Regions from separate parts of the Homo sapiens genome. Here region 1 is linked to region 2. The links come from fine-mapping of genetic effects on gene expression. A gene starts in region 2. The other region holds a variant in brackets. All regions are shown on one strand. Distances are from middle to middle.

Region 1 (9,718 bases), 45 kb before region 2:
AATCTCTACCAAAAATAAAAATACAAAAATCAGCTGGGTGTGGTGGGGCATACCTGTAGTCCCAACTACTGGGGAGGCTGGGGCAGGAGGATCTCTGGAGGCCAGGAGGTCGAGACTGCAGTGAGCCATGATCGTACCACTGCACTCCAGCCTGGATGACCGAGTGAGACCCTGTCTCTAAAAAATAAAAAAGAAAGAAAAACATACACGTGGAACCATAAGCATGTGTGTGGTGGGGAAGGGCAGGCTGGGCCCAGGGAGCAGCATGTGGAAGGGCACAGAGGCCAGAGTGGGCTTGGGGCAGCAGTGGAGTGAGGCCACCAGCTGACTGTCAGGGTCTCTCTCCCCAGGTGATGGGGAGGAAGTACATCCGGCTGTATTCCCCGCAGGAGTCAGGGGCTCTGTACCCTCATGACACGCACCTTCTCCATAACACGAGCCAGGTGGGCACTGGGGGTCTGGGGTGACGTTGCAGGTTCTCCCCACTGCCCCTGGAGATGATGACGTCCTTTGCTTTCTTCAGGTTGACGTGGAGAATCCCGACCTGGAAAAGTTCCCCAAGTTTGCCAAGGCCCCATTCCTGTCCTGCATCCTGTCTCCTGGAGAGATCCTGTTCATCCCGGTGAAATACTGGCATTACGTGCGGGCTCTGGATTTGAGCTTCTCGGTCAGCTTCTGGTGGTCGTAGCCAGGATAGGAGCTGAAAGGGCCTGACATGCAGACAGCATTCATCTGTTCACTAATTTCCTGGGTCCTGGAATCTATAGAGACAAGCAGGACTGAACCTGTGTCCTGAAGAGCCTTCACTGCCCAGTGGCAGCCCTGGGGGGCTGAGCTCCAGCACTGGACAGGCACAGAGCAGGGGCTGCCCAGGAAGGAGCACACTCCAGGCCAGGGGTGCATGGCAGAGGAAGGTGGGGAGAGCCCAGAAGGACATTGCAGACAGACAGCCTGCATGGGGACTCTGGCATCAGAAAGCCGAATGTTTTTGGGAAACGGGTGGGTCACACAGGCAGGGGTGAAACATGGGCTCTGAGGTTGGCTACCTGATTCAAACCCGGCCGCGCTGTGCACCTGCTGGGTGACTTGGCCAGGATCCCCCACTTCGCTGTGCCCATATGGAAAAGAGGGCAAGGCCAGTCCTCACTGCCGAGGGCCGAGAAGGCGGTGCCGAGCCCCTGCTGCTGCATGAACCTTAGCCGCTGTCACTGATCCCAATTACTCTGATCCTTTTGCCCTTCCTTCCCATAACGGCCTGCTGGACGCCACAGCCTGAATACTGGAGAGAGCTGGGCATTGCCCAGGTCACAGGAGAGAGTCCGTAGAGACCTGCGCAGGAGCCGGGACCCCTGCTGAGCAGTGGGAGCTTTCTGTCATCCCCATGGCTCAAGGATAACCTACCTGCCTGCAGAGAAGTGCGAAGGTCTTGCTGGATGACTTTTCACCCGCACTCACCCAGGAGCAGGCTCCCAAGTGAAGAAACCACCGAACCATCACCAGCTCCTAGAAGCCTCCCTCCTACCACCTTCTAGTCACCATCCCCCAGAAGTAATGACTCTCAAACCTGGGGGATTTGAGGCCAGGGGGAGAGCCAGGCTCTATGCTTTCTGTAATTGTGTCTCGTTTGTGTGCACGCAGGTTTGTTTTATGTTTTGGCCATTAAGATTTTCCCCAGCCCTCTGTTTTTTGTTTTTTAAACTAAATAGAGATGGGATCTTGCTATGTTGCCCAGGCTGGTCTTGAACTTCTGGGCTTAAGCAATCCTCCCACCTTGGCCTCCCAAAGTGCTGGGGTTACAGGTGTGAGCCACATGCCAGCCTTGGCTTCTTTCTTCCCCGCTTCTAAGATAGGCCTGGGGAAAAGAGCCCTGAGGGTTGAGCTGCCATCCTGCCAGCATCCTGCCACTGGCTCAGCTGCTTGTCTTTTAGCCAAAAATCAAGCAGCCCCAGGAAAGATTCTGGTTGGCCAGGAGGTAGCTACCCTGGGGTAACTAGAAGGGGGATGGGAAAGTGGCTGTGGGCAGCTGAACTCCAGCTCCTGATGCCCTCTACCCAGGCCAAGGAATTTGACTTTATCGTGTAGGTCCTGGGGTTCTCAGCCTTTGAGCAGACACAGCAGAATCTGCATTCTCGAAAGCTGGCTGTTGGCAGGGAGAGGCCGTGATACTCATCCTGGGAGTGGGCTGCCGAGGGGCCATGGGCGTGCTGGGGAGTGACAAACACAAGAGCTATCTGGAAGCTGAGTCCACTTGGCTCCGTGGGCAGCTGTTTGCAAGGACATTGTTTATTCCCTGCCATGGTTAATAGTGAATTACCTAATCTTTCACAGGAAGAATTTACACCAGATGTCAACACCCCTGAAAGTAGCGAGGCATAAAACAGGGACGCCCTCATGACTAGGTTCGCCATTAGTGAGGAGGGGTGGCGGCCCGGCCACAGTGGGCTGTGACTCCTGGCCCGCCTGTGTAACTCAAACCCCTTCCCCAGCTGAAGGACAGGTGGACTGTGGCCCCAGCTCCCAGTGCCTAGCCGCTCCAGCTGGCAAGCCCCACGGCCCATCTGTAGTGTAGCGTGACAGAAAGCTGGGCACGGGAGGCCACGTTCATTAACGTGTGGTATCCTGGCCAGGTGGCTTCAAGCAGATGTCCCTTGTCAGATGAGGAATGGGAAAAGGGGAAATGTCCTGCCCTGTGGGTGAGGACACGCAGCATCTGGAACTCCTCATGAGGGTTTTGAGTGAGTGCTAGTGTGCGTTGTGGGACGTTCATGTCGGTGTTATCATGCAGGGGTTGGAGGCAAGAGAGACAAGCAGCAGGAGGGCTGGTGTCCCCAGTGGCCAAGTGCCCAGAGGCTTCCTGAGTCCCCAGCCAGGACTGACTCGAGCTCAAAGAATGAACAGCCAGAACCACAGGACAACTGGGACAGTCCGGAGCTGCCCCGGCCCCTCCTGCAGGCATTATTTGCTAGTTGGCTTTTTGCCTTCTGGCGTCCATCTTCCCGTCTTCCAGAACGGCAAGCTGACTGCATTCTGGAGAATGACCTCTGCCCCAGGGATGCGGTCCTGGAAGGTCTGTACATCAGCTCCTCCCTGGACCGGCATCTTGAGGGCGTGTCGGGAGGAGCTCAGACAGGCTGGAGCCGACCCCCTGTGGCAGCAGCGCCCGCAGTGACAGAATTGTCTTGACATCCATGACCCTTATTCCAAGGTCTCCCATTCTAGACTGGTCCTGCCTTCCTGTCATTTCTGCAAGCCACCTCATACGTTTCCAAAAAACCCCTCTTTAGGTGAGGCCGGCCGGGGCTGGCAGTGGCTGAACGTACTGGGCTTACCAATGGGCGTGTCTCTGCCCACTGACGAAGGGCTGGGCTGGGTCCCCGGCTGCCTCACTATGGGAAGGTGGGCTTGAGGGCTGAGGAGCCCAGACCTGGTTCTGGGAGGGTGAGCCTCCCACCAGCAGGGGTCATTGGTTCACTGAGCCTTGGATGCCTGCTCCACCCTGGGTTTATGGAGGTGAACAAAGTGGGGTGGTCCTGCCTGCAGCGGGGGAGGCCAGCCACCAATTCAGTGTCCAAGTTCACTCCCTGCTGCCCCTGAGGCTACTGAAGATGTGATCGCACCTTCGATATGCTTAGGGAAAGGCCCCTGCTCCCTCAGCCACGTGGCCTGAGAGGGACAGTCCCACCCCTCTCTCCGAGGTGGGTCTAATTTTCCAATGCCAGCTGGATAATCCCATCCCCACCTCACAGGTGTCCACGTGGGAGCTGTGGGCCATGAGGATGCTTGCAAGGATGTGGGAGCCACTAAGTGAGAGCCACCCTCTTCCTCCTGATCCCAGGCATGATGCGCGAGGCCCAGAGGCATGGCAGCTATTTTGCTACCATGAAGAAGGCAGCTGGATTTCTAGGAAACCACCTCGTAGGCCCCAAGCATGCAGCCAGCCCAGTGAAAGCACAGTAGACACAGAAATATGGCTGTGTGGTGACCTTGCTGGAGCCTCTAGACCAGGCATCTCCTCAAGACCCCTGTGGCCAAGTCCGTCCTTGTTTCAGCCAGTCTGAGTTGGCTTTTCTGTCATGACTGAAGCATCCTGACTGATGCTGGGGTTCAAGAGAGGGATGAAGATGGGGACTTAACAAGTGTGAGGATGGAGGAAGTGCAGGGAGCGAGGGGCTGACCAGTGCCAAAGGGCGAGCGGGTGCTAGCCAGGAAACAAAGCCAGACACCAGAGGGGAGGGCGCGCAGGCCCAGGGCGCTCTGTGTAGAGGCTCCGGAGCTGACGAAGGAAGCGCTGCACCCTGAGCAGTGGGTGGGGGGAGGCGGTGGCAGATGAGCAGGAGCCTCACCAGGGGTCACAGCCCTGCTGCAGCAGTGGGGGCATCCAGGGGTCTTCTGCAGGGAGCACAGAGGCAGAGTGTGGGCCGGGGCTGGAGCTCAGCCTGAGGCAGCAGTGGCAGGGCTAGAGGGCTATTGGCAGCTGGGCTGGACAGGATCTGGTGACAATGGGATGCAGGAGGGTCAGGGAGAGGAAGCACTGAGGCTGACTCCCAGTCCCGGCTGGGACAGCTGGATGGCAGGGCTGCCGGGCACCCACAGGGAGCAGAGCGTCCAGGGAGGGAGAGCACGCATCCCGCCCAAACGCCCAGCCTCAGCCCATTCAGGCCAGTGGCACCTTGGGCCAGGGGAGAGTCCAGACTGGGGAGCTGGGGAGGCCAAGGCTCACACATCCAGGTT[C/T]GGGCCAGCCCAGTCCTGCTGGGACAGCTGGCCACCGCTGGGACTGGAGGCAAGGCTGCCCTGGGCAAGGACAGTGAGCTGTTCTGAGTCATTGCTGGGGGCTCTTGCTGGCTTCACCTGCTGGAGCCCAAACCCAGGGGGTCTGAGTGACGACCGAACTCCAGGAAAGGCAAGGCCCCAACACGGAGCCTCACACACGGGCTCGAGAACACAGACGGGCTGCAGCAACTTCCCAGGATGGTTTATTCCAAAGCTGTGGACGGTGAACATTAAGACGAAAGAGGTGACTCGCGTGGAACCTGAAACACGGACGCCTTTCTTCCAAGAAGGGCTGTGGCGATCAGGCCACTCAAGGCAGCCAGCCCCTCAGCAGGGCACGATGGCTAATGCTGCCTGGACCGCAGGGACTTTTTGTTCGATTTCAAGACACCAGACTCCCTCTCCTTCTCAGGGTCGAAGACTTCTGTAGACAGAAAAGGCAGGAAAGACACAGTGAATGGAGGGGCTGGCAGCACAGGGGCACCAGCTGGAGCCAGCAGCTACGTCTCCTGTGCCAAGGACTGTCCTAGGTCTACACCATCCTTCACTGCTAACCCTCCCCAGCCCGTGAGGAAGGCAGAGTTAGCCCCAGTTCAGAGAGGAACAAACTGAGGGAGCTGTGGACATAGCTTTCACGTCCCCCTCCTGAGAGGGCTGCCAGAGAGAGAGCCTTGTCTAGACAAAATGCTCATACACGTTGGAATTTCAGCTGGGTTCTAGAAAGTCCTCTGGAGCGGTGCACGTAGCTCAGCCTTTACTTCCTGCAGTGGCTTCTTCTAGGATTCAAGCTGCTAACACGGACCCCCACACACCCTGGAGCCCTTCAGGGCCCTGTCTCCAAGGGCTTCCCTGGCACCAGGCCCCACGTCCTGCTGGCCCAGCCCCTCCCATGAGCTCCTCAGGGCCCACGCACTTGGGATCTCGTGGGGCCAGTAGTCGTTGCAGTGGGGGCAGCGCGGTTCAGCATTCGACTGGAAGTACTTGGCCACGCAGGGTAAGTGCATCCTGATCCCACAGGTTTCGCAGCTTTGACCCTGAAACAGGAAAGGCCAATGACGGCGGAGCTGGTGCACACCTCCATGTTCTGCAAACCTCCGGGGAAGCCACAAGGGAAATGGGCAGCAGGTGGCATCGTGTTATCTTCTGGGCCCCAGATTAATATTGAAAATAATCCCAAACGCCTTAGTGCAGTGGAGTCTTTTGTTTGCTTGCTGCTTGTTGCGGTGGGTTTTACTAAACAATTCTGAACACATGAACGCAGTGACAGAAGCCGAGGGCTCCCAAACTCCTGCACTCAGATCCTGCAGGTGGCGTGTGGACAGCCACAGCTTTTCAGAAGCTTATTTGCTAATGTGAATCAAAAGCTTTCAAAAAAAAAGTGCACTTTGTCCCAGAAACTCCGCCCAAGGAAATAATCACCAGGTGCCCAAGGATACAGGTGTACGAGGCCCGTAAGAGCAATTGCAATTACAAACAGCTACAGCTGCAAAACGATAGAAACTGAAAGACACATCAATGTCCACGCTGGTTCAGCGGTTGCAAAGCCCTGCAAACCAGTGTTAAGACCACTCCAGAAAGCAGCAATCGACAAGAGACACTCACTACAAAACTACCAAGATGATGCAGGTTGCACAGAACACTCAGCCTTCCTGAGAAAAATAAAGTAAGCGAGGGCCCTTGGACCCCAACAGCAGAACCAGGGAGGAGGGCGGCAGTGCGTCCCTGCGGGGCACAGCAGGGAGGCGTCCTGACACGTCCTGGGAGATGGCCTCCGCCAGCTCTTGTGGGAGGATGCGCCAGCAGTGCAGGAGGGCTGGGCCCAGAGCCAGGATTCCGGGAAGTACCTGTACAGAGCCCCGGGAGCCGAGGGCCCAGTGATGAGCTCCCGTGCCCTGCCCTGCGGGTACCTGGATGAGGAGGCTGTGACAGATATTGCAGATCTTCACCGCGTCGGGGTACGTCTCCCGGATGTATTGCTCCATCTCCAGGATGGCCCGGCCGTGCAGGGTGAACTCCCCTTCCTTCTGCAGGGACACACAGGAGGTGGCCACCCTCAGCCAGGCCCTCTCCCCATTCACCACCTCTCTTCCCTCTGTGATCCCACAGCCCAGTGCTCAGGAAGACACAAGGGTCTACGCAGCTTTTCACCAACCCCAGCCAACGGGCATCAGCCACATCCCCCTGGCAGAGCCTCGGCAAGGGAAACTGAGGCAAAGACCCTAAAGACATGGAGGCGTGGCTCCCTGACACCCGCCTTTTCTCAGCATCTGCTGTGCCTTCAGACGTGACTTCTCTGTCTGCACGGCAGCCTCGAGGGAGGCAGTCACAGCCCTCCTGCAGATGAGGACGCTGAGGCCCACAAGGGGGTCAGTCTCCCCAGGGTGCAAACCCAAACACCCACTGCTGCCATCCGCCACCCATCCCACTCCCAAAAAGCAGCATCCCTGGTGCCTCCCAGCACTTCTGCCTCCCAGCACTTCTGCCTCCAACTGCAGTAGGGACCCTCAGAGATCACTTCCAGCCACATCACTTTACAGATGGAGCTGGAAGGAGTCTGGAGAGGGCAGACAGGCCCCATCACACTGTGGGCAGTGGAGCCTCCAGTGGAAGCCAGGCCTCCTGGTTCCCATGCCAGGGTGCGGTCCACCCATCATGCATCCTGAAATCCCTGGGAGAGCCCGGAAGCACAAGAACAATGCAGCTCCCCAGGCCGACCCTACTGCCAGGTCACAGGAGAAAGGCAGCACTGAGGGAGACCCAAGGCAGGCAAATGACACGGGACCCAGGACATGGACCCATGCAGGCTGATTCCAGTTTCTCCACAGTCAGCTCATGCATCGGATATGAACCACACCAGGAGATGACGTCACTGACGCCTGCAAGTCACCCGAGTGCTCAACTGCCTTTTCTGTTATTTTCTAATTTTTAATTTTTACAAGCAAGAGCTGTCACTCCCGTTTCTTTTCTTTTCTTTTTTTTTTTTTTTTTTTGAGATGGAGTTTTGCTCTTGTTGCCCAGGGTGGAATGCAATGGCACAATCTTGGCTCAATGCAACTTCCGCATCCCGGGTTCAAGCAATTCTCCTGCCTCAGCCTCCTGAGTAGCTGGGATTACAGGCATGCGCCACCACGCCTGGCTAATTTTGTATTTTTAGTAGAGACAGGGTTTCACCATGTTAGCCAGGCTGGTCTTGAACTCCCGACCTCAGGTGATCCGCCCACCTCGGCCTTCCAAAGTGCTGGGATTGCAGGCGTGAGTCACCGCACCCAGCCCACTCCCGTTTCTGACAGGTAGAGCCCCCCACCCCATTCCCACCTTCATCCCCACAGTGCAATGTGGAGGGGTGTGCTTGCGTAATCTGGGCTCACAGTGCGTTCGCTCTGGAACACCAGTAGAGGAGCTGGGTGAGCACAGGAAGGAAGGCAGGGCAGAAGCGTGGGGTTGGGGCATGGACAGCCGCTGCGGGAACAGTGGAGGGAGGCCGGGGCACCAGGTGCTTGTGCCCTGCACCGCAGCTGTTGCTGGTGCACAGGGGCTTTGTGTCATCCAAGTGCTGTGGGCAATGGGAGGATGTGACCAGCCCCCAGGCTGTCCTCGGTCCTCAGTCCTATGGCTGTTACCTTCCCCCAAAGCTCCCAAATCCATCATGGCACCCCACCTCCCTGGCCACCGCCCTCTTCCAGCCTCCCCTCCAGATCCATCACGGCACCCCACCTCCTTGGCCCCCACCCTCTTCCACCCTCCCCTCCAGATCCATCACAGCACCCCACATCCCCAGCCACCACCCTCTTCCACCCTCCCCTCCAGATCCATCATGGTACCCCACCTCTCCAGCCCCCACCCTCTTCCACCCTCCCCTCCAGATCCATCACAGCACCCCACATCCCCAGCCACCACCCTCTTCCACCCTCCCCTCCAGATCCATCATGGTACTCCACCTCTCCAGCCCTCACCCTCTTCCACCCTCCCCTCCAGATCCATCATGGCACCCCACACCCCCAACCACCGCCCTCTTCCGCCCTCCCCTCCAGATGCATCATGGTACCCCACATCCCCGGCCACCGCCCTCTTCCACCCTCCCCTACAGATCCATCATGGCAACCCACCTCCCCGGCCTCCACCCTCTTCCACCCTCCCCTGCTCCTGCTGCTCTCTGAGCCCACTCTCCTCCAGCAACGCACTCGCTACCGAACAAGCCTGGCCCTGTCACTCCCAACTCACCCCCACCCCAGGGCTTCCCACCACCCTTAGGTCCAAGAGCCAAGCCCCTAATACGCGTATCTCCCGGGCTGCCCTCCGTCTGCTCGCCTCGCAATCTTTGTGCTCAGATGGCCCTGGCCTTAGCTTCTTGAGTGCACCTGCTGGCCACAGGGCCACTGCCGGGCTGATGATCCTCCCACCCCAGGCTCCAGGCAACTCCCACACAGCCTTCAGCTCAAGTGTCACTTCCTCAGCAGCTGAGGGCCGGTTCCTCTGGGACAGCTGTCATAAAGCCATGTTTCCTTTCCATCTGTACCAGGACTGCAGTGAGATGACCGTCTCACTGATCTCGGGCTCCCCCTCCAGACCATGGCCCCATGGGAGCGGCCACCAGCTCTGGCTGTGCTCACTCCTGTGTCCGCAGCACCTGCTGTGGGGCCCAGCACTTGGCAGGCCTGTGATAAACACCCACGGGAAGATGAAGTAGACCTTGCACTGATCCCAAAGGAATGCCTGACACTAAGCAAGTTCAAGCTCAGACTGAGGCAGGAGCTGCATTTATTTTTTATTTATTTATTTGAGACAGAGTTTCGCTCTTGTTGCCCAGGCTAGATCATGCAATGGCACGATCTCAGCTCACTGCAACCTCTGCTTCCAGGGTTCAAGCGATTCTTCTGCCTCAGCTTCCCGAGTACCTGGGATTACAGATGCCCGCCACCACACCCAGCTAACTTTTTTATATTTTTAG
Region 2 (9,718 bases):
GATGAATAAATACAGAAAAAAGATGCTCAATCTCAATGTTATCAGACAAATGATTATGAAAACCACAGTGAAGGAATGTCTTAGCCACCACCAGACAGGCAAAAATTTTAAAAGAATGGCTGAGGCTGAAACTTTCATCTGCTGCTGGGAGAGTATAAATTCTTTTCCTTTTTTTTTTTTTTTTTTTTTTTTGAGACAGGGTCTCACTCTGTTGCCCAGGCTGGAATGAAGTGACACAGTCATAGCTCACTGCAGCCTTGACCTTGTGGGCTCAATCGATCCTCTGACCTCAGAACCCCCTAGCAGCTATGACTACAGGCACACACCACTATGCCCGGCTAATTTCTGTATTTTTTGTAGAGATGGGGTCTCACCTGTTGCCCCAGCTGGTCTCATACTCCTGGACTCAAGCGATCCACCCACCTCAGCCTCCCAAAGTGCTGGGATTACAGGTGTGAGCCACCACTCCAGGCTGAGTATAAATTATTGTAACCATTTCAGATAACAGTTGATATTACTAGCAAATTTGCATATCCCCCGAAATCTACTATTAGGTATATACCTTACAGAAACTTCCACATTTGCCCTAGGAGATATGTTTTTACAGAAGCACCTTGTAATAACAAAAGTCTGGCAACAGTATAAATGCCTACCAACTGAAGAACTACATTAAAACAATATAATCATCCCATAGAATTCAAATCAGCAATGAAGACAAAGTAGAGCTCCTCACATCAACACGCATACTTCTCAGAAAGATAATGTTAAGTGCAACAAGCAAGTCACACAAAATATATTTTAGGATCCTATTACATAAAATCGAAAACTCAGCAAAAGCATACATTCATTCATTAGAAATACACACATACATGGTAAAAACTACAAAGCAAAACAAGGCAACAAGTAACACAATATTCAGGGCGGTGGTTATCTTTGAGGAGGGAAGAAAGGATTCAGTGGAGGGTCTGGCAATCTGAAAATGTCTATTTCTTAACTTGGTGGCAGGTACATGAGTGTTCATTTTATTTTTGTTCTTCAAACTTACACTTCCACACAATTGTATAGGTATGTTACATACAATGTTTTTAAATGTGATGGGCTGGGCATGGTGATTCACACCTGTAATCTCAATACTTTGGGAGGTCAAGGCGGGAGGACTGCTTGAGGCCAGGAGTTTAAGACCAGCCTGGGCAACATAGCAAGATCCACTCTCAACAACAACAACAACAACAAAATAATGTGAATATGTTAAATAACAGCCAAAATAAATGTAAATGAGAATGAGAACAGGATAGGATTGAATGCTATAATTTGGTGGAAAAGGAGTGGGAAAAGTAGGAGTGGAAGAAAGACAACCATAAGCTTGTTTATGCATATTATGTCCCTTGTCTCTATGAGAAGAGACTGTAGGGAGAATGGTGGGATTAGCATAGACATGTATTACCTACTTAAATAATTTTATTTTATACAAAAATCAGCCAGGCGTGGTGGTGCACGCCTGTAATCCCAGCTACTCAGAAGGCTAAGGCAGGAGAATCGCTTGAACCCAGGAGGTGGAGGTTGCAGTGAGCCAAGATCGCGTCACTGCACTCTAGCCTGGGCGACAGGGCGAGACTCTGTCACAAAAAGAAAAAAAAAATTACTTTTTTTAAAAAAATTAATTAAAACAGTTTATTGGCTTTAAATGTACATCAGTAAATTTTTAAATGCTAAAAAGTTATGATAAAATAATACAGAACCAAAACATCAAAGAAAATAGAGGCTCAGCAGCATGATTTCAATATATTTTCCCGGATAAACAGATTTTTTTTCTAAGTATATGCCTTTTTATTCAAGAACAAAAACTCCCTAAATTCAATGTTTAGAACTGAATTTTTTTTAACTAAGCCCAGAAAACTGGGGCTCATAAAATAAGGCATAATGTGGGCAGCAAAAGAAAAAAGGAGAAAAAAAATGGGAGAAAAATTGGTTTTAATCCCATGTATAATATAGGTTGGCTGGTTTTGTTTTTGTTTTAGCCAATTTAAGGCAGAATTATCTCTCTGCAACCTTGCAGATAAATCCTAGTGTTTTAGCCATAAGTTTCAAGAGTTCATATATACAGATAAACCAATTAAAAAAACCTTTTCGAAGGCTTTTGAAGCATTATATAAATCTTTAAAATTCCTATCACCCACATTTTAAGAAATACATCTATACGTTTAAATTTATTATTAAATTAATTAAATGCATTAATTAAATCAATTTATTTAAATTTAATAATTTTAAAATAGAAATGTTTGTGGAATAAGTAAATCTCAGTCATACCATTCGTGCGGGTGCTAACACAATTCTAGTGCTTCACATGCCCGACCTCATTTAACCCAAACCAGAACAACCTTATGAGCAAAGGGTCACTGACCCCATCTTACAGATGAGGAAACTGAGACTAAGAGGGCACAAGGTGACACACAAGAGTTGGTGGCAGAGATAGACGTGACCATACAACAGCACAGTTCCTGTTTTCAAGGACACTCTCTATCCAGCGAGAGTGAGAAAAGTGAGTGAACAGAACAACTACAATCCAGGTCCCTCATCTGCAACCCTCAAATCTAAAAAGGTATGAATACTAGTGGATGATCGGATGCAGGGGAAAAAAAAAAAAAAGTCTGAATACCAAAACTTGTTTAAGTTGGAAAACTTGACCTGACTTAAGGTGAGGCTATTTATGGTTATTTATCCCAACAGTGTAAATATATGCATTTTTTTTTTTGAGACGGAGTTTCGCTCTTGTTGCCCAAGCTGGAGTGAAGTGGCACGATCTTGATTCACTGCAACCTCCGCCTCCCGGGTTCAAGCGATTCTCCTGCCTCAGCCTTCCGTCTCAGCCTCCCGAGTAGCTGGGATTACAGGCACGCACCACCACGCCCGGCTAATTTTTTGTATTTTTAGTAGAGACAGGGTTTCACCATATTAGCCAGGCTGGTTTCGAACTCCGAACCTCAGGTGATCCGCCCCCCTCAGCTTCCCAAAGTGCTGGAATTATAGCCGTGGGCCACCGCGACCAGGTCAATGTAATATATGCGTATCTTCATAACTTTAGCTGTGGAAAGGGTCGTGTATTTGATTACAAGCCGCTGCTCCAGCCCCCTCTGAGGGTGAAACCTAACATAGAACATAGGGACTTTACCTTTCCAAACTCCGAGAACTCCTCGATTTTAAACGCATCTGGCCTCGGGGCTGTAACATAAGCGGCTGCGGACTTGTACAAAGTAAGAAACTCCGTACACAAAACAGAGGGGAGCACGGAGGGCGGCGGGACAAAGAGGGTGGTCGGCAAAGGCTGTATTTTCCATAGATGTAATCACAGTTTGAATCGAATTTTATATTTTGCTTTTTCACCTGTTACAATGAAAAGTATCTTTACCTGTTAAATCGTAATTACGATTAAAAATATTTTTCACTAAATAGTAAGATTTTTAGATGTCTGCGTGTGTGTTGCGGGAGGACATCCCAGTCCGCTGTTTTCTGCGGCCCCTGTCTGGGCCTCAGTTTCCCCATCAAGAAGGGGGAAACCCCAAGACCCCAGTCCCCGAGTTCCACAGCCCACGGGGACCGACCCCGGGGCCGGACCCCACTGCCTGTCTCGCCCACCCCACCTTCCGTCCTCCCCTCGCCTTCCTTGAAGTCCCTCTTCTTTCCCCTCCAACCCCTAGCTCCCCACGTTACCCACCAGGGAGCCCAAGCGCATCCCAGGCCGCGCTAGCGGATACGGTCGCAAGGTGGACTCTTCTTCCTTTGAGGCGGGGCGAACGCGAACGCGGCGTTCCCATTGGTGGCCTGCGGCTTATTCGCCCGTCCGTTGAGTGACGCACTTCCGGTTCTCCGTTTGCGCCATTGCCCTGGTGGTTCCGCCTCGTGGGTTAGATCCCAAATTACGCCCGCTCTCGATCCTTAATAATGGGAAGGGGCTTCCACTTGTCGCCCTCCGCCTCCTGCACCTCAGTGACTTCCCTGACCAAGGAGGAAGAATTGGCGTGCAGCCTGGGCTTCCCTCAATGGCCACCATTCCGCTGGCACAATGTAGTGCCCTGCCCCGGGCCTCAGTTTCCCCATCTGTGGAACTGAGTGTGGCCTCGACGTCAAAAATGTGGACTCTGGTCCGGTCGCGGTGGCTCACGCCTGTAAGTAATCCCAGCACTTTGGGAGACCAAGGCGGGCCGATCACTTGAGGTCAGGAGTTCGAGACCAGCTTGGCCAACATGGTGAAACCCCCGTCCCTACTAAAAATACAAAAAGTAGCCGGGCGTGGTGGTGTGTGCCTGTAATCCCAGCTACCCGGGAGGCTGAGGCAGGAGAATCACTTGAACCCGAGAGGCAGAGGTTGCAGTGAGCCAGATCGTACCACAGCACTCGAGCCTGGGTGACAGAGCTCAAAAAAAAAGAAAAGAAAAATGTGGACTCTGTGGTCATAGAGCCTGATCTAGAATCCTGGCTCTGCCACTTACTAGTTGGCAGGCGCTTGGGCAAGTCACTGAGCCTCAGTTTCCTCTTCCATTAAATGAGGATATTAGTTCTTGCAAAATAGTGTTGGTGAGATTTACAAGAGATAATAACACCTATATCAGGTGCTTAGCATGGCCATTGAAAAGTGTCACATGGGAGTGCTGATTATATGTTAACTGTTATCTTACCTAGGGATTGTGAGAAAGCAAGTGAAATTACTCGTGGAAGTGAATGGACTGCTTTGAGTCTTCAAGGCGTTAATTTTCCAAACGTTTGAATTCTATCCCTGGTCTGAGAGCTAGGGATGCAGCCTAGCAAGGGAAACAGGTAACTAATATAGAACAGCAGTACCTGCAAATATCTGTCTCTGTGAGGATAGATCAAATCCAGGCTTGGTCACTCACCACCCCTGTGATCTTGGACAACCTCTTAACCTCTCTGGGCTTCAGTTTCATCTGCTAAGTGGGAAAGCAGTGGTGTGTGGTGATTAAAAGCTTCAGCTTTGGAGCTGGATGGTCAACATGGAATCCTGGGCCTTAAACTCAGTGTCTCTGAGACATAGGACAAAGTACAGTCAGCTGTCCATGTTTACAGGTTCCCCATCTACGGATTGAAGCAACTGTGGGTGGTTAATATTTGTGGGGGAAAACAGTAAAAAATAACAGTTCAACAATAAAAATAATACAGATTCCGAAAGCAATACAGCATAGCAATTACTTATATAGCATTTACATTGTATTAAGTATTGTAAGTAATTTAAAGATGATTTTCAATATACTGGAGGATTTGTGTAGGTTAAATGCAAGTATTCTCGCATTTTGTAAGCACCCAATGGTTCTCCTTGCCTGCTTCCTAGACAGAACCAATTTATCAAGACAGGGGAATTGCAATAGAGAAAGTTTAATTCACACAGAGCTGGCTGAACAGGAGACCACAGTTTTATTATTACTCAAATCAGTCTCCCTGGAAATTCAGGGTTTTCAAGGATAATTTGGTGGCTGGAGGTGCTGGGGATTAGAGAGTGTTGATAGGTTGGATCAGAGAGGAAAGGAGTCAAAGCTGTCCTCTTGCACTGAGTCAGATCCTGGGTTAGGACCATAGGACCAGATTAGCCAGATTACAGGGCTGGGTGGCGTCAGCTGGTGCATTAGAACACGGGTTCTGCAAAATATCTCAAGCACTGATTTTAGGTTTTAGAACAGTGATGTTACTCCCGGAAGCAATCTGGGGAGGGTCAGAATCTTGTAGCCTCCAGCTTGCGTGACCTCCTAAACCATAATTTCTAATCTTTTAGCTAATTTGTTAGTCTACAAAGGCAGACCCGTTCCTAGGCAAGGAGGGGATTTGTTTTGGGAAAGGGCTATTATTGCCTTTGTTTCAAAGTTAAACTATAAACTAAGTTCTTTCCAACATTAATTCCACCTATGTCCAGGAATGATCAAGGACAGCTTGGAAGTTAGAAGCAAGATGGAGTCAGGCCAGATCTCTTTCACTATCATAATTTTCTCAGTTATGCTTTTTACAAAGGTGGTTTTGATTTTACATAAGGGACTTGAGCATCGAGAATTTTGGTATCCATGGGGACTAAGGTACCAATCCCTCACAGATACTAAGGGATGACTGAGCTCAAGTTTTCAGCTTCAGTTTGCTCATCTATAAAGCAGGTTTAATAATAACACTTTGTTGATAATGTTATTCTGAAGATTAAAGGAAGAGTAAACGTAAACTACTTAGAAGAGTGTCTCTGGCACATTGTAAGCCCTCAATAAGTGTGAACTAACACCACTAATAAGTTCTTTATAAACTGCCTAATAGGTAGTCAAATAAGAGGGGAAATAAAGCCCTAAGGAGTAATATTTGTGTTTTGTTTGCCCTACATGGTTTTGTGAAATTTTCTATTCATTATCAATATTTAAAGTTGGGGTTTTCAATCTTTGACTGGGCATGATGGCTCATTCCTGTAATTCCAACACTTTGGGAGGCCCAGCTGGGAGGATGGCTTGAGCTCAGAAGTTTGAGATCAGCCATGGCCAACATGGTGAGGCCCCCATCTCTACAAAAAAAATATATACGCGCGCGCGCACACACACACACACACACACACACACGCAAAAATTAGCCAGGCATGGTGGTGAACACCTGTGGTCCCAGCTACTCAAGAGGCTGAGGTGGGAGGACAGCTTGAGCCAAGGAGGAAGAGGTTGCAGTGAGCTGAGATTGCATCACTGCACTCCAGCCTGTGTGACAGAGCCAGACTCTGTCTCAAAAATAAATAAATAAACTTGGGACATTTCACATAAAACCCTACTGTAGCTGACTGCTCTGGAAAAGTGGGGAAGTCTGACGACAGTGGGCCAGCCTTCCCCCATGGCAGCACTTGTTCAGAACTTGGGAGAGACCGTCCCCTTTTGTGAAGCATGTGCTTCCCTGGTGTGTGGAGAGATAAAAGAATAGAAAACGCTGGGAACACCAGCATTTCAAGATCAAAGCGTCAAGAAAAAAAGGTAGAAAGAAAAGAAAGATTCAAGACTGAGGGGGTTGGTCTTTCACTTGAAGACCATAGAAGTGATGGAAGACCAGGAAGAAATGAGAGAAGGTTTGTATTTTAGAAAAAGAACTTGGGTATATCTATTCTTTTCAAACATGCTTGGAACATTTACAGAAATTGATTACTGGGCCACAAAGGAAGCTTCAAGAAATTCTCAAGAATCTATAGGTGACATTCATGAACCACATGCTGTGAAAGTGGCATCAGAGGCACATAGGAATACAGACTTTTGAGAAGGAGGGTGTGGTCAGAATCGTCAATGCTCTGGAGAGGTCGAGTAAGATGCGCCACTGATTTAGAATTTGATGGCCAACAAAGGCCATCTTAATAGAGAGGGGAGGAAGCCAGATCGAACTCCAAGAGTGAAGAGTGGAAGTTGAGGAAGTGGAGAGGGAATGCTGACTGCTCTTTTGGGAAGTATGGCTTCAGAAGGGAAGACTTGAAGACATAGGAGCAGAGATAATAATCCATAAAATAAAAACAGGCAGCCGGGTGCGGTGGCTCACGTCTGTAATCCCAGCACTTTGGCAGGCCGAGGCGGGTGGATCATGAGGTCAGGAGTTCGAGACCAGCCTGGCCAATATGGTAACACCCTGTCTCTACTAAAAATACAAAAATTAGCTGGGCATGGTGGTGCGTGCCTGTAGGCCCAGCTACTTGGGAGGCTGAGGCAGAAGAATCACTTAAACCCAGGAGGCAGAGGTTGCTGTGAGCTGAGATCGAGCCACTGTACTCCAGCCTGGGTGACAGAGTGAGATTCCATCTCAAAAAAAAAAAAAAAAAGAATTTGAGACTAGCCTGGCCAACATAGTGAGACCCCATCTCTACTAAAAATACAAAAAATTAGCCGGGCGTAGTGGCGCACACCTGTAGTCCCAGCTACTCTGGACGCTGAGGCAGGAGAATGTCTTGAACCCAGGAGGTGGAGGTTGCAGTGAGCCGAGACTGTGCCAGTGCACCCCAGCCTGGGCAACAGAGCAAGACTCTGTCTTAAAAAAAAAAAAAAAAACACCAAAAAAAAAACAGACAAAAAGGGATGGGGTCAAAGGTGTATAGCGACAGGATTACTGTTAACCTAGAGAAGAGAAGAGACACTTCTGAAACAGCAGGAAAAGAGGTGAAAGTGGCTAAAAAAAGCTCACTCCTGATGTTTTCCGTTTTCTCCGTAAGGTAGCAAACAGTATCAATCTTTGGCTGAAGAGGGCCTGGCGTGGTGGCTCACACTTGTAATCCCAGCACTTTGGGAGGCTGAGGTGGGAGGATTGCTTGAGATCAGGAGTTCGAGACCAGCCTGGGCAACACAGCAAGACCTCGTCTCTACAAAAAAAAAATTAAAAATTAGCCGAGTGTGGTGGCATGTGTCTGTAGTCCCAGCTACTTGAGAGGTTGAGGTGGGAGGATGGCTTGAGCCTGGGAGGTAGAGCCCAGGAGGTTGAGGCTACAGTTGAGGTTAAGGTTGAGGGATGGTGCCACTGCACACCAGCCTATCCCAAAAAAAGGTTGGGAGGTGCTGAGGAGATGCTAAGGGATTTAAGGGGAATGGATCAAAAGGTTTGGAAGAGACGCTGACGACAATGCAGAGATGAGTTCCTAGCTGAGGTTGAAACCAGAAATGTGTAGAGATGACAGTTGGTTATCTGATCCCTCCCTCAACACCCCCATCCCCATCCTGGGGGCTTCAGAGCAGAAGCTCAGCCTGGATTCATACTGAAGTGGGCCTTAGCTGGGGTTAAGCAACTGATTCATAGAAGGCCAAGTGACGGGAGAATGCTACTGTCAAGTGATCCACTATGGATCTGGCAAAAATAAAAAGAAGGGAAAGTGCTGACAAATTAAAATGGAAGCAGTACAGCAATCAGAGGCCTCTATGAGGTGAATCTCGTTCAGCAGGAACAAGTAGTGAGTAAGGATCGAAGTTCATCATGCAGAGTGGTCCCCCATGGGGTGACAGTCCTGCCTCAGTATGACTCAGAGGACGGCTCATTCCCTAGTGGGCTCTGTGAGTATTTATTGGGCCTTTGAAGTGCCAGACTTTGGACTCTCTATTCCTGGACAGCTCTGATGGTTCAGACTTCTCAAAGCTGACCCTAAAATGCATGAGAGCTATGAGTACATAAATTTGTTGACCACAAGGCGAGGGCCAAGGCCTTGGCTAGAGAGGAAGCTTCGGGAAATAATATGCTGAGGGTGTTGGTCTTTCACCCGAAGACCACAGAAGCTTATGAAAAGTAAGTGATGAGATCAGGCTTGTATTTTAGAAAAAAAAACTTTGGTATATCTATTCTTTACAGAAATTGACTATGTACTGGGCCACAAAGGAAGCTTAAATGAATTCCAAAGAATCTATAGACCACATTCACAAACCGCAATGTGGTAAAATTAAACATCAACAACAAAAAGAGAGCCAAAAAGGTGTAGATACAATACACCTTAAATTAGTAACTGCAGCTGCTTCTGAGGAAGGGGCCAGGAAGTCAGAATGAACTTTTTTTTTTAACCACGTACATCTATTACTTACGAATTTTTAAAAATTAAAAATTGGGCGGACGCACTGGCTCACGCCTGTAACCCCTGCACTTTGGGAGGCCAAGGCAGGTGGATCACCTGAGGTCAGGAGTTTGAGACCAGCCTGGACAACATGATGAAACCGCATCTCTACTGAAAATACAAAAAAATCAGCCAGGC

The links.
Region 1: its variant is fine-mapped to the expression of NSMCE1 in whole blood (INTERVAL, PIP above 0.99). The same link has a PIP of 0.9 or more in skeletal muscle.

What each region holds. Positions count from the first base shown.
Region 1 is chr16:27,220,043-27,229,760 of GRCh38, forward strand. It overlaps KDM8 (lysine demethylase 8), which reads left to right. Exons shown (of 8, transcript NM_024773.3): 7 at 351-443; 8 at 524-1,726. The coding sequence ends at 688. NSMCE1 (NSE1 component of SMC5/6 complex) reads right to left here. Exons shown (of 8, transcript NM_145080.4): 6 at 6,678-6,794; 7 at 5,684-5,804; 8 at 4,952-5,194. The coding sequence ends at 5,115. Among named protein-coding and RNA genes, the nearest start is that of KDM8, 21 kb to the left of the region's middle. RefSeq lists an enhancer at 2,353-3,038. The variant C/T (reference allele first, on the strand shown) is at 4,732.
Region 2 is chr16:27,264,994-27,274,711 of GRCh38, forward strand. NSMCE1 (NSE1 component of SMC5/6 complex) reads right to left here and starts at 3,779. Exons shown (of 8, transcript NM_145080.4): 1 at 3,713-3,779. It overlaps NSMCE1-DT (NSMCE1 divergent transcript), which reads left to right and starts at 3,212. Exons shown (of 5, transcript NR_037184.1): 1 at 3,212-3,251. RefSeq lists a silencer at 3,673-3,752 and an enhancer at 6,661-7,209.